2 linked regions of the Homo sapiens genome follow. The protein of the gene in region 2 interacts with the protein of the main gene of each other region in a pairwise test. Each region holds a gene or a part of one and is shown on either strand. Other genes may lie near its edges.

What was found. Proteins that work in one complex are often made in the same cells at the same time.
Region 1: the proteins of FAM25A (region 2) and ZFAND3 interact in binary tests that used the Homo sapiens proteins (3 or more experiments, as listed by UniProt).

The regions. Positions count from the first base shown.
Region 1 is NC_000006.12:37,815,079-37,822,731, reverse strand, and holds the start of ZFAND3 (AN1-type zinc finger protein 3), read right to left. Parts: upstream 3,006-7,653; 5' UTR 2,787-3,005; coding exon 2,716-2,786; intron 1-2,715.
Region 2 is NC_000010.11:87,015,700-87,023,294, forward strand, and holds the start of FAM25A (protein FAM25A), read left to right. Parts: upstream 1-4,594; 5' UTR 4,595-4,625; coding exon 4,626-4,698; intron 4,699-6,614; coding exon 6,615-6,677; intron 6,678-7,595.

The sequences.
Region 1 (7,653 bases), on a different chromosome or scaffold from region 2:
TTCCTGTGGGTCTAGGCTAAAGTGTCACTTTCTCCAGGCTACTTTCCTCTACCTCCACCCCAGCTAGGGTAGGTGCCCCTCCCCTAGAGCACCTGTACAACGTATTGCAACTGTCAGTTTACTTCCCTGTGCCCCCTGCCCCAGAGTATGGGGCCAGCACCTCCTTGCCCACCATTATATCACAGGCATTCAAATATCTGTTAAATATATTCTAAGTTTACTCAGTGAACAAAATATGAATGTGGCCCATACAGTAAGGGAAACATGTCCAAAGTCAGTTGTGATACGATGGAAACAAGGCGGCAATGTTGCTATGCTTTGGTATAAAATACAAACTACACAATTGTCTACAAACGTCCTTAGGAAAGGTTAAAACATTGCACCAAAAAGAACACTTTTCACGATAAAAATACTAGTTTTGTGGTCACTACTCCTGCTAGGTAAACTGAAGTTCATAAAAAGTATCAGACTGAAAATATCTAAAAAGAAGCCCTGGTTGCTTATAGGTCAAGTACAACATTAGTGTAACTTTTCCTGTCTGCTGCCACCAAACTCTATTGGCATTATCAGAACCCTACCGGCTAAAGGTAAAAGGCTGGCCGGGCGCGGTGGCTCATGCCTGTAATCCCAGCACTTTGGGAGTCCAAGGCAGGCAGATCACCTGAGGTCAGAAGTTTGAGACCACCTTAGCCAACATGGCAAAATCCCGTCTCTCCTAAAAAACACAAAAATTAGCCGGACATAGTGGTGTGCACCTGCAGTCTCAGCTACTTGGGAGGTTGAGGCAGGAGAACTGCTTGAACCCGGGAGGTGCAGGCTGCAGTAAGTCGAGATCACGCCACTGCACTCCAGCCTGGGCAACAGAGCAGGGCTCCGACTCAAAAATAAATAAATAAATAAAGGTAAAAGGCTATTCCATTTCCTTAGTTTCTAAGCCTTGATATAAGTCTTTCGATAAAGATTCCATTCATGGTAACAGTCCGAAGGACATAAACGTGTTGCCAGGAAAGAGACCTGATACATCCTGAGCATTAGCTGCCACTGGCAGCGACTTTCTTTAGGACATATGTCTTACAATGAGTTACAATCTGAGGCTTGTGACACAAGATTTTTCCAGGGCAGCAGACTGATACCATAAACATGATGGTACTACGCACTCTAAAGAGCTCACCAGCTCCACCCTACACTCCCTGTGTGAAGCGGCAAATTATCCACCCAAAGCCTCAGTTTCCCCAGCTAATAATGAGATAATGGTTCCTACCTCGCAAGATTCTTGTGGGAATTAGACAGTCCATGAAAGCACTTCACAGGCAAACCAATTATTTTCAAATCAAAATGAAGGGAAGACTAGAAATATTTTCACATTTTTAGGACTTTTTATATGCCACAACTTATTTTTGACTAATGTCCTTCCACAGGGAAATTTTTGAGAAAGGCAGAAAAATGAGAAAATGAAAATCCACTTCTTTGTCATAACCTTGAGATACGACAACTTCCACAGAAGTCTACATTAAGATCCACTTTCTAATCTTTCTCTGCACTCCCAAAATTACTCTTAATTTCTGTTAACCATTCCTACAATATGGGAGATAGCAAAGGGAAAACTACTTCCATACTTCTTCCCAAGATGTCCTCACCAGAAACAATCTTCCTTCCTGCCTCTATGTCTCCAAATATACGGAATCTCTCAAAAAATAAAACTAAAACAAAACGATAAAAGAGAAAAGGGACTCAAATCACAAAAGCCAGCCTTCAAAGTCTCCAGCTTTCTTACTGCAGAACTACAGTCATGTGGTATGATGGAGGCACCTGTTAGGTGGCAATCCATGAAGCTTAAAGTGTTACCAGGAGAATTTAAACAGTAATGGGGGGAGGAAGAGGAGCTGATTTCCCACCTCACATTTTTTTCGCCTTAACACATGATGGCCAAACAATATATGCTACCCACTGTCAACATTTTTATCATTTTTACTTAAATTGAGAAAGAGGAGAATTTGAGAGCCAACTGAGGAAACTGGATCTCATATTCCCCAATCCAGGCTGACTTCAGGTTTTGTGTGGTTTTTTTCTTCCTTTTTGACAAGGAAATTTTACATATCTCCTGAAACGTGTTTTACATGAAGGTGAGACCTCAACAATCTTATAACTTTACCCCAGCCTGGTTCTGGACTCGGTTTTTACAAACGGGTGACGTGTGAATAGCTTCCTAAAAGCAAATGGGGCACTGGGATATAATCTAGGAAGTGATGATGCAAGTCTCCGGAGGACGGGGAGGAGGGGAGGTGAAGAAGTCAGAGGAAATACCCTCCTAGTGCCTGGGCACCAACTCACGCCCCGGGAGGGAGGAAGGGCTGGCTTCCACATGCCCACGGAAGGGGCACCCCTGCTCCTCCCGGAGCGGTCAACGCCGCCCCCTCATCCCTCCCCGCCGCCCTGCCCCCCTCACCCGTGGCCCAGGAGGCCCCCGTGGGCCCGAGCTTCAGGCCGGCGAGTCCCAAAGGGTAGCAACGCACCCCCGGCAGGGCCTTCTCTGCCCACCCCCAGCTCCCCACCCGGCACCCCTCCCCGGAACGCGACCCCCACCCCCTCCCCGTAGGCCCGGGCTGGGCCCAGCCTCCAAGGTTCCGGCCTCCCGGGCCCCGAGGCCTGCCCAGGCTGCCCTGGCGTCTGCGCCCCCGGCCCCCGCCCCCCGCCCCCACCCGGCCGGGCACTTACCCCCAGAAGCCGCAGGGACAGCGAGGCGGCAGGCTGGGCGCTTTGCTGCGCTCGCTCCCAGCGTCTCCCATGGTGCTCGGCGGCGGCGGAGCTCGGCGGCGGCAGCGGTGGCGGCGGCTGGGCCCGGGCCCCGCTCTGAGGAGGCGGTGGCGGCGGCGTCGGGGGGCTCGGGGCGGGGGGAGGGGGAAGGAGCGGGCGCGCGGGCGGGCGCGAGTCCGGGGCTCGGAGCCGGGATTCCAGGCCGGTCAGCTGGAGGCGGGCCGCACCACTCGGCCTGCGGAGACGGGGAGGGGGCGGAGAGGCGCGGAGAGAAGAAGGAGGGAGCCGAGGAGGAGGGGCGTGCGGACGCACCGAGGACCGCGGGGGAGGAGGGACACAGACGCCCTCGGCGGGTCTCACCGCCGCTCCCCAGCCAGAGAGATGTCCTGTGCGGTGGCGCAGGGAAGGACCGGAGCCCCCCGCCGGCTCCGGAGTCGCAGCGGCCGCTCTGAAGCCCCGGGCCCTGCTGTCTCCGTAACACCGTCCCCTCCCCCGGAGGCTGCGCTGACCGGACAATGGCCGCTCCGCCCCCTCCCCGGCGTGCGCCCCTCCCGAGGAGTCACAATGGTCTCGCCCGGGGGAGCCAACGCCAAAGCCCAGCCGCTGATCAGCTGGGATCCGGGCGTGCCACTTCGTTCCGCGCCTCAAAGGCGGAGTGCGGGGCTGTGGGAGAAAACGAGAGCCTCGGGCTGTCGCCCGGCGACGGGCGGCTGAGGCCTTCGTATTCTTAGAACTTTTAGAATCTGAAGCAAACTTATCTTCCCCCTGTCTGAAGAAGGGGAGCAGGTTTCTGAGTACTCCGGGGCGCGGTGCCTCCCCCTAAACGCGAATGGTGCGCTCCAAGCGGGAGGGGGAGGAGCAGATTAGTTGTGTAGGGTAAATTGGGCCAGTCCCAGAGTGGCGGCGCATGCGCCCGTAGAACCCGTAACCGAGTGCGAGGAGGGGCCTGGGGGAGCAATGCCAAACGCGGAAGTGGAGCTCTGGCTTCCCGGGGGCGTCGGAGTCAAGGTCCCTGGAGCTGCCGCTCTGGCTCCTGGGCGATTCCGGGGAGCCATTCTCCCCAATTTGCCAACTCCCTGGGCATCTCTCTCTCTCTTCCTGGTCCCGCCACACCCAAACAACTCTTATAGTTCCACCCGGTATACTGGTCTCTTGACAGGAACTTTTGGGAAATGCCCCTCCCCCAGCCCCTTGTCTGGGGCAACTTCCTTGTCTCTTCTCCCCCACCGGTGTTGGGGAGTTCCTTGTCTCCACTCCCAACCACAGAGCCACAAGTACATTATCTATGCCCAGGCGAGTCCCTATGCCCAGGCTAGGAGAGCCGCACTTCTTCCTACAGCTGACACGTTTGGTTTTTGGAGGGGAAAGGGGAGCTGTAGCTGAATCAGTAATGGAAATTGGTAAGTGACCAAAGAAGTTTGAGACACTAAAAAAATGAGTCCTTTAACGATCCTAGTCCTTGATCCTGAGCTCATTCTGATCTCCAGTTAGTCATGAACAGAGAAATCGATTATTGATGACTAATTCAACACGGAGGCAACATCCTCCAGACCTTTTGGAGACCCATCGCTGAGGAAGACTTCCTGGCTCTTAGGAATAGCTGCCGTATACCCTCCTTGCCTGTCGGGTATATCAGAGCCTCAGAGAGACTATTACCTAGATTAATTTGATTACCAAATGTTGCTATCTTATTTCTTTATATACCAAATCACATTTCTGTTTGTGCATACTGTGTGGGTTTGTTAACATTGATGTTTATTTTGGCCTCTAAAGAGCAAGGATCGCATTTAGCTTAATATGCCACAGATGCTGTTGATGGTGAAGTTAATGATTGCAAAAATCAAGCACTTAAAGCCAAAACACCCTAAAATGTGAGTGCTGATTTATTATGCACAATGTTTAGTTTTAATTTGGTGGATTTTCCAAAGCCTTCAATAAGTATATCTGTAAGAAAGTGCATAGAAAAAGCCGGACGCTGTGGCTCACGTCTGTAATCCCAGCACTTTGGGAGGCCAAGACGGGTGGATCACCTGAGGTCAGGAGTTCGAGACCAGCTTGGCTAACATGGTGAAACCCCGTCGCTAGTTAAAAAAAAAATACAAAAACTTAGCCGGGCATGGTGGCACGCGTGTAATCCCAGCTACTTGGGAGGCTGAGGCAGGAGAATCGCTTGAACCCGGAGGGCGGGTGTTGCAGTGAGCCGAGATCATGCCATTGCACTCCAGCCTGGGCAACAAGAGCGAGAGCGAAACTCTGTCTCAAAAAAAGAAAGAAAGAAAGAAAAAATGCATAGAAAGGATAAAGCCATACAGCACACCTTGCTCTCATTGGATTCATATTACCCTTAAATCTTCATTTAAGCCGACATAAAATTCCCACATGCGTGAGATACTTAACAGCCTTTGAGTTTAACAAAGATTAAGTGGGATTATCTCTCTTGGCATCTTGATGATTTTCTTTTATGTACAGAAAAGGAAACTCGACAACTAAAAGGAGAATTCAACATAAAAAGTGATTGTCATTTTCCAAACTGCTTTCCTGTTTGCCAGTTATTCAACAAACATTTATTCAGTACCCAGTATACACAAGGACTTTGCTAAGCACTCTGGAGACTAAAAGGATTAATAAAATGTAGCATTCACCAGCAGGTCCCTACATATAATGTAGATAATTTGGTTCCAGTCTTCCTCTCAGACTTCATTTTCTACTCTTCTCTATTCACTCTGCGAAGCAGACACTAGTTGCCATTCCTCAAATACCTTGCTTTCCCACATCTCCATTCCTTTGTCCTCCTGTTCCTGACTGCTTCAGCTGCCTTTTCTCTTTATATGTATACACACAACACAAGGAGATAATCTTATACAACCCAAGGACACAGAGAGCAGTAAGATCGCATGAAGGACTGAAATAGGTACCTAATACATCAACAGGAAGCCAAGTGTTTGGTTTTTTTCGATATCTTTTTCTCTCTGGTTACAGGTTCTTCCATCTCTGCTTCTCTCTACAAAGCTGCTTTATAATCTCGGCAGAGCTGTTTTCACTGCTTTTTTGGGAACGTAATCCAGGTTTACCCAGCCTCACTTCAAGAACAAACAGAGACTAATTAGTATCTATGAATCCCAATCCCCAGGAGAAAGAAACTGATTGGTTCGATTTATGTCCGCTTGTGTACTCTTGGTACAATCACCTTTGACCAACAGGGCAGTTATGTAGTCAGGTCTTTTTGTTTTGTAAAGCAGACATGGCTGCCAGAACCCCATCTTTGTAGGCTATGTTCTCAAAGTTATGTACTTGGCAAAGATTCCAAAAAATGTCCACCACAGACCATAAAGGAGTAAATTGCAGCTGAACTTCAAAAGCATAAAGAACAATTGACATGTTAAGGATTTTCAACAGACTGACTCCTACTTAAACAAATTCAGACCTGAATTTAAATGGAACTCCTTCAAAGAAGTCATCCCTGACCCAAGCCCCAATCAAAATTTGGTGGCCCCATTATTATCTTACATGGCACTCTTTTTCTTTATAGTACCTATCATAGTTTAAATATGTATTTGTGAGTCTCCTCTCCAAAAATCATGTCTGTTTTGTTTACTGTGATATACACAATACTCAAGGTGCATTTGGGAGGCGTTCAATAAATGTTGTATGAATAAAAGCACAATAATTTGTTAGTCAATGTGAGACCCACAAATGGATTGGAGTCATAGTTAGACAATCCTGGGGGAATGTCTTAGTTACCAACCCACCCTCCCTAGAAGACATTGAAGCTCTCTGCTTTTTTTTTTTTCTGACCTCATTCATCACAAGGCTGCCAGCTTTTTTGTCACACTGAAGTTGTATGAGATGAGACAGTATTTAGCTGCTGCTTATGACGTTCCTAGCCAGATAACTCTTTACTCTTAGTTCCCAGTGTCTCTATCTATAGAGCCCTTGATCCAATTCCTATAACAAGCCCACTTAGTTGACTGAAAGCTCAGAGAGGACATAAAATTTCAGGGCATCATCAAATTAGGGGAGCAAAGTGTGGGGGTAATTGGCAGAGTGCTTTTGTCGTAATTGTCTTGACTATTTTCTGTCGTGTATTATGTTCCAGATGAACCTGTGATGTGACTCCTGGGAGTAGTTTGCAATCACCATTGGCCCAAAAGGAGCCATCTACGTGCTCAGTGGGGTCTAGTAAAGGATAATATTAATTCTTCAGCAGCCAGAGCTTTTGAAGTAGGAACTGAGGGTGTATAGAAAAGAGCCTGGTATGATTCAAGGTCAGGAGCAAACAATGGCTGCCTTCTTGGTAAGAATTCAAAAGACCTACTTAGCCCTGGAAGACTTTACCAAAAAGAAGGGACTTGTAGAGACCTGAGAGAAAGCAGATGATCCTCCACTCTAATTCTAATCCCTACCCTTGAAACTCACTCTCAGTTCAAAACTTGTCATCATTATAATCCATCCTAACCTAGTATTAGCCCCAATGTCCAATCCAAACTCTAGATTTAATTCTAATCCTAATATTATCTGTAAAATTTAATCTCAGTTCCCAACTCTAGTTTTATGAGCTTAACAAAGGCTCTTTGCCTTGCCACTGAGTTATTTTCCCTAGCTCCTTTTTCTTGGGTCCCTTGACCCTGACTGACGAATGAGAGCAGAGAACCCTATAACATCCTGGACCTCTGGAGAGAATGAGAGCCAATTTCAATAATCCAGGTTGGATCCAAGGCCTTGGGCTGCCAGGAAAGAGAAAGTGGGGCATCTGTGACCAGAGCAGGAGGCAGAGACCCTGCCCAGTCACATTTCTTGTTGCCTAATTCAGGGACTACTAAGCCTCTGAAAGTCCAGAATACATGCACTCCAAGTCACCTATGTAGACTCAGGAATGTGAGGTACAGTTGGCCTACAGTG
Region 2 (7,595 bases):
TCAGTCACGAAACCCTCACATTCATGGCAGTGTGTCGGAGGTTCCAGTATGAATGGCATTTCCCAGATGTCAGCGCGAGGTCCTGTGGAGGGAGTGGGGCTCCCTGGGAATCTAGTGGAGAGCATTCAGGTCTCCCTTCCTCAGGAGCCTGCCCTTCCTGCACAGAAGCGTCAGCCTCACCTCTGTACCACTGCCCCTCTGCCTCTCAGAACCCACTTGGCTTCAGGAAGATTCTACTGCCAGCCTCCTTTCCCGGATACAGCCTCCGGGGACTCAGCCTTGCCTTCTCAAGTGCTCCAGCCTCTCTTGGGAAGGAGTGCTCTCAGATACCACACCGCTGGACTTCCCCGGGCACCACCTGCTCCTTCTTCACTTCTCCAGCTCTGCATTCTCACTCTGAGGGTCCTCTCCTGCTGGGAGTGTGTGTTGCTGGCAACAGTGAAGATTTCCCCCCTGGGTTGCCCCCCATGCCCTGTTCTTCTGCACTTCCCTGGCTTCCTGCGTTGGTTCTGCTGGTGTCTCCTGCTTTTGGGTTTACGTGGCTTCCCAGCTTCCTAATTTCTCTGAAGTTGAGTTTGATGTGTGTGTTGATGATGGGCTTTTTCCTGCTCCTCCTCCTTCTCTTCCTCCTCCTCCTCCTCCTCCTCCTCAGTCTTGTTGTTGCTCCATATAGTTTCCAGAAGGAGAAAAGGGACACTGTAAAATTAAGCTGCTGCAGGCTGGGCACAGTGGCTCATGCCTGTAATCCCAGCCCTTTGGGAGGCCGAGGCAGGCGGATCACCTGAGGTCAGGAGTTCAAGACCAACCTGGTCAACATGGTGAAACCCCATCTCTACCAAAAATACAAAACTTAGCAAGGCGTTGGTGGCATGTGCCGGTAATCCCAGCTACTCGGGAGGCTGAGGCAGGAGGATCTCTTGAACGCAGGAGGCAGAAGTTGCAGTGAGCCGAGATCATGCTACTGCACTTCAGCCTGGGGAACAAGAGCGAAACTCCATCTCGAAATAATAATAATAATAATAATAATAATAATAATAATAATAATAATAATGCCATGTTTCTATCAGACCCAGAAATCCCGCAGAGTGAGCTGGAATTCTGTTTCTCTGTTTCCCCTCCATACCCACTGGCTCCTCTCTGCCCACTCCCTCTTGGACTGCATCACCAGGGTGCCTCACTGTCTGGCCCTAGTGGAATTCAAACAGTGGAGGATGTCATAGGAGGTGGGAGAGAGAGAGGAGAGGTGGTTATTCGCTCAGATTCTTCCTTGCTGGTTTGGCAGTGGCCACATCTTTCTACTGATGGCTGCAGCTCCTGATGATCCTCCTCTACCTCCACAGCTCTCTTTGGGATCTGTGGACACCTTTCCTGTCCCTCTAGACCCAGGGAGATAACAGCTCCCACTCTTGCTGGTCCAGGACATTCCTCATCTCTTACTGGTTCCCTTAACTCGGTCCACACTTCTGTGAACAGCCCCTTTCCTCAAATACCCATTCCAATATGTCCTCTGGCTTCCACCAGGAGCCTGACTGATACCCACAGGTGGGTGAATGCTGGCATGCTGCTGGGCCCCTCTTCCTCTGGTGACTGGCCAGCCAAGTCTCCAGGAGTCTCGTTAGGGTGGGCAGGTGGTGGGCACAGCACAAACTGTGAGCTCAAATCCACAGAGCAAAAGTGGGAGAAGACACTGGCAGGATGGACCGCCACAAAACTCTTGGCATTCGTGACGTCTGTCCTTTAAATCACGCAAGGCATCATCATGCTTCAGACATGAGACAGCCTAAGTATTTAAGTATTTCAAATAAACAAATTGTTTTTCAGAATTGGTCATTGCTAAGTTGGCAAATTGCTATTGGAAACGTTGGCTGTCCTTGACTCAATGATTCAGCCAGCTAGTCCCTTGCCAAACTAGTTTGTTGGGCAAATTCCACCTTGAGAATTTATCTGCTCCTGTCAAAGCCAGATTCTCCCTGCCTGAGGGGAGGCTGGACTTGACCTTCTGACTCAGGATATGCTGACTTGGGTCCCTAGGTCCAAGGGCGGCCCTCTTGGGCCCACCGTGGGCTGGACCTCTTCCATGATGGGGTGGTGGAGGGCAGGCCCCACCTGATTCACCCTTGACCTCATCCAGGCAGGTGAAGTTCCCTGCAGGAGTCACCTGAGCCCAGCCCCTCAGACCAGGATCCATCCTGTTTAGGAGGATTTGGGGCCATCTCATGTTCTTTGGCTAGAAAGGGGTCCCACTCTTAGGGGTCTGCCCTCTGTGGGGCACAGATGGCTTGCTGGGGCCCATGGACTGGGCTGGGTGGATGGGAATCTGGTCACAGCAGCAGCGGCTGGAAGGCCAAGAGGGAGGGCACCAGGGCCTGGGACCCATGTCTTGTCCTGGGCCTCCCCGGGCCTCTTGCCTTCTCCCCAGCAGGCATTTGGGATCTGTGTCTGGACCCAGCCTTGCCCAGAAGGCCATGGTGTGTTGTCATTAGAATCACAGTGCTCACACCAAGGCAGTGCATTAAATTAGCAGGGCAGGGTCTCATGGGCAGGGGACCATGTGGAGGGGGTGGGGGAAGGACAGTTGTCCCCCGAGGCTGCGGTGGGCCTGGCTCTGGTCTGGGCAGTGGGCCAGGGTCCTGCTGTGTGGCTGAGCTCTGACAACAGGCTGTCTGAGTCTGGTGAGCTCCTGAAAGCGGGGACTGGTGGAGAGTACCCTAGGGTGGGAGCTCGTGAGGAGGGGGTCTGTGGGGTCTGGAAGCCATTCTAGAGCAGGCAGATGACATTTATCAGCGGAACAGGCATAGAAAGGACCCTTGTGCGAGTGGGGGACACACAGCCTCAGAAGAAACAGGGAAGGGGCTTTGACAGGTCCAGGGAGAATCCCTGAGGTTTCCTAGAACAATTCCCACCAGCCATGTCCCAGGTGTCCCCCCATCCCCCAGGCCTCTGCAGTGCCAGCCCAATGCCCTGGGCAAAAACATCCTGGACTCTGGCTGTTACAAAAGGAGGACAGGGTCATCTGGACCCGCCTGAGCTCCAGGCCCCCGACTTTCACAGCCCCTTCTGGGTCCAGAAGTTCATACGTATATAAATGAAAAATGTGCAAGAATCATATTATTGTATTCTTTTTCATAAAGAGGGCCCCTCTAAATTGTTTAAGCCCCAATTCACCCCTGCCCAAAGGAGATAGCAATGGCATGTGTGGGGCCGTAGTCTTGAGACCCAGAGGTCCTGCTGCCCACGATACCCACTGTCCACCCTAGGGGGACTGGCCGTAGCCCTGGAGCCCGCAAACACCATGCAGGAATGCAAGAGGGTCTCAGCTCCCGAGTCCCAGGCTGGGAGGGCCCACAGTCCAGTAAACTAATCAGGCCCCAACACACCCAGGAGAGCAGCTCCAGGAGCCTGCATTGAAGAGAGAGCCTCAGACCCCTGCCACAGGCCTGCACCCCAGAAGTAGGAGGATGGGAAGACCTCTCCTTGGCTCCTGGCCAGCGGAAGTCACATTCCCCAGCCCTCTGGCTCCAAGGCAGCCTCACGTCCCAGTCACTCCTTGGCCCACCCTACCGGTTGGTCAGAGCTCACTGCCAAAGGGCACCTCAATGATGAGTGGAGGGAACAGGTGTTTACCAGGAGCTTGCATGCTTTGTCTCAGGGACGATTAGTGACACAGCCAGGAAGGCACGCTATCCCCATTTTACAGATGAGGAAACGGAGGCTCAGGTTGGGCTGGTGACTAAGGGAAGCAGCATGTGGCAGGTGGCTTGAGGCATGTCTGTCCATCATGAGTAACTAGGGAGCAGCCCTGCCACTCCTCATGTGATGCACCAGGAGCCAGGGAAGCTGCTTTCTAGGGGATTCTAGCTAAGGCCAGAAGCATCTCCCTGAGTGGTGGTGGAGGCCTCTGTCTACTCCTCCAGGACTGCCAGGGGATAGGAGGGCACTGCTGGCCTCACAGACACTCTTGGGTGAGTGAGCATCAGCTGAGCAAAGCCAGGTGACTACACTTCTGCCCAGTGCTGTGCCCCCCTCTGACTCAGGCAAGGCACCACCCTGAACGCCCCACCCTGTCCCATAGAGGCCACAAACTGCTCTGCAGAGCCAGGGTCTCCAGGAATGGGGAGGGCAGTCACCCTCACTCCACTTGTGTTCATGACCCAAAGGACTGCCCAGGTCTCCAGGCCCATAGAACCCCTAAACCTCTTACTAGGCCACACTGGGGACCTTGAGCAGCAGGCTTGGAATCCTAGGCCTTGTCTCCAGGTACATATCAGTACCCAGGCTTGGGAAGTTTTGGTCTCGGGGGGCTGGCACTCAGGCCCTCTGCCTCAAGGAAGAGGCATGTCCAGATCTCTCCTGTCCAGCCCTGCTCCCTGCCCCTATCCTTCACGGGGTCCCTAGGACAGGGTTACAGAAGCCTCAGGCTGTCAGGGGATGCTGCCACCCCAGTGCCAGGGTGGCTCCGCCCAGCCCCTTCCTGCTGCCGCCCTCGCTGACTCACCTGTCCAGCCTCCTACTGGGCTGGGGCAAGGGCTTGTTGCCCCAGAGCCTAGACAGGCACCAGAGGCAGCTATAAAAGCATGTTGGGCCAGTCCTCAGCATCCTAGTTCACCACTGTCTGCTGCCACACGATGCTGGGAGGCCTGGGGAAGCTGGCTGCCGAAGGCCTGGCCCACCGCACCGAGAAGGCCACCGAGGGAGCCAGTGAGGACCTGGGGCTCCTTTCTACCTGGGCTGGGGGGATCTGGGGCAGACTGGGTCTGTGGGAGGCGGATCTAAGTAGGCAGGTGAGGACCTGGGAGGAGGCCTTGGCCCCTCAGGAACCCTGGTCCCCTGCTCTACCAAGTCAGCACGGAGTTGAGGGGTGCAGACCTGGGGAGGTCTCCTGGGGGCAGGGCATGAGTCCTGGTGCTGGGTGAACACTGGCAGCTTGGACCCTTCCCTCTGGAAATCTGGGGAGCCTTTCTTGTCAAAACAGCCTATTCTGAATAACCTATGCAGGAAAAGGAAGATGGATTTTTATTTTTACCATAACTTTAAAGCTTCAAAGATTTCTAAACAAGTCACCAAGTCTGTTCAAAGTCAAAAAGGGCATTTTCAATTTCATCCAAGTCCCCTGAAGCATGTTTATTTTTATTTTTATTTGTATTTGAAATGGAGTCTTGCTCTGGCACCCAGGCTGGAGTGTAGTGGTGCGATCTCGGCTCACTGTAACCTCTGCCTCCTGGGTTCAAAGTGATTCTCATGCCTTAGCCTCCTGAGTGTCTGGGATTACAGGCACCCACCACCATGCCCAACTAATTTTTATATTTTTAGCAGAGACAGGGTTTCGCCATGTTGGCCAGGCTGGTCTCAAACTCCTGACCTCAAGTGATCCATTCCTCTTGGCCTCCCAAAGTGCTGGGATTGCAGGCGTGAACCACCGCACCTGGTCCCGAAGTGTATGTTGTATTCAGAGGTCAGCAGCTATGTGTGGGGAGGCCCAGCCAGGAGCCACTCATGGGTCATCGTGTGAAAAACAGTCTTGCCTGAGTTTGTGTCCTCTTTCTAAATGGCAGCAGACGCGTATTTTGTTTTTGACTCTGCAGCTGGTGTGGACCACCTGCTTTAACCTTTCACTAGCCTCTGAGTTTTGTATGATTCCTGTTGGGAGAAAAGCTGAGTGTTGGGAGAGAAGCTGAGGCAGGGCTTGCTAGATTGGCTGGCTCCTTGCTTCTAGCACTCCCATTTTCTCAAGTAGCCGTATGTTTCTCATTCACTTGATACACCGTTTCCTTTCAACCGCCACATCCTCACCACCTGTTTCTTTGTTAGATCACCAATAAATAGCATGGGTTCCCAGAACTCCGGGCCTTCGCAGCCTCCACACTCGCGATGGCGCCCCGCTCCCATTTTCTCTCTCAAACTGTCTCTTTCTCATTCCTTTGACTCCTCTGGACTTGCCGCCCCCGCGACCTGGTGTTGGGTCTCATCACCCCAACAGATTCCCATTCTAAAGATGAGGGAACCAAGAGGTGGAAGGTAGAGTTAGAATAAGAACCATTTCTTCTGACTCTGAAATCCTTCAGTTCTAGCATGCTACCACCTACACTTTAAAAAACTCTGAAGTAGGCAGAGAATTCCCTTTTGTTGGAGGAATTGCTTTGAGAGACCTGGTTTTACTGGATGAGGCTTTGGAAACCAACCTGAGGCAGGCGCTAGCACATCCTGAGAGGGGTGTGACCTGGCACAGAGGCCCAGCCTGGGCTTCATGTCTCAGCTGGCAAGATGGCCTGCTCATTGCCATTCCAGGCCGGGCAGGGCCAAGGGGCTTCAGGGACCCATGCCCTCATGGGGCTCACTGAGCTCGTCTCCCGGCAGCCAAGGCCCTGGCGTCTCCGAAGGAAGCCAGCTGTGGGGGAAGGTCCTTCTCATGAGCCAGTCTGTCCTGGCTGGGGGTGGCATCCCAGAGCCCCATCTAGGATGTCCAGGGATGTATAGGTCCATTGTGAGGATAAGCCAGCACTGAGCCCTCACCCTGGACTGGGAGGGCAGTGGGCCTGCTCTGAGCCCTCACCCTGGACTGGGAGGGCAGCGGCTCTGCTCTGAGCCCTCACCCTGGACTTGTCTCCTCTGTTCAGTTCATGCCGTGGAAGAAGTGGTGAAGGAGGTGGTGGGACACGCCAAGGAGACTGGAGAGAAAGGTACAGCTGGCTGAGGTCGGGCAGGGAAGGAGGGAGGGAGCAAGGGAAGCTAGGTGCTGGGCCAACCTGTTCTTTGACTAACCAGGTCAAACTCTGCCCCCAATGTTGCAGCCTTTCAGAGCCTCTTGGCTGGGGCAGTTATCTATGCTCATCAGAGGCCACAGACTGTACTGCGTTAGGGCACTGTCTAGATGGTTCTGTCTGTGGAATAAGAAGACAAAGTCACACAAGACTATGTGACAGCACACTGGGACAAAACATTTAACATGGCAGGGCGCGGTGGCTCACGCCTGTAATCCCAGCCCTTTGGGAGGCTGAGGAGGGTGGATCACGAGGTCAGGAGATTGAGACCATCCTGGCTAACACGGTGAAATCCCATCTCTACTAAAAATACATAAAAATTAGCCGGGCATGGTGGTGGGTGCCTATAGTCCCAGCTACTTGGGAGGCTGAGGCAGGAGAATGGTGTGTACCTGGGAGGCAGAGCTTGCAGTGAGCCTAGATCATGCCACTGCACTCCAGCCTGGGCTACAGAGTGAGACTCGGTCTCAAAAAAAAAAAAAGAAAAAAAAAATTGCTGGGTGTGGTGGCTCACGCCTGTGATCCCAGCACTTTGGGAGCCTGAGGTGGGCGGATCACGAGGTCAGGAGATCCAGACCACGGTGAAACCCCATCTCTACTAAAAATACAAAAAATTAGCTGGGCACGGTGGCGGGTGCCTGTAGTCCTAGCTACTCGGGAGGCTGAGGCAGGAGAATGGCGTGAACCCGGAAGGCGGAGCTTGCAGTGAGCCGAGATCGTGCCACTGCACTCCAGCCTGGGCGACAGTGTGATACTCCGTCTCAAAAAAAAAAAAAAATTTAACATGTAAAATTCTATGTTAAATGTTAAATTGATGTGTGTGAGCTATGAGTAGAA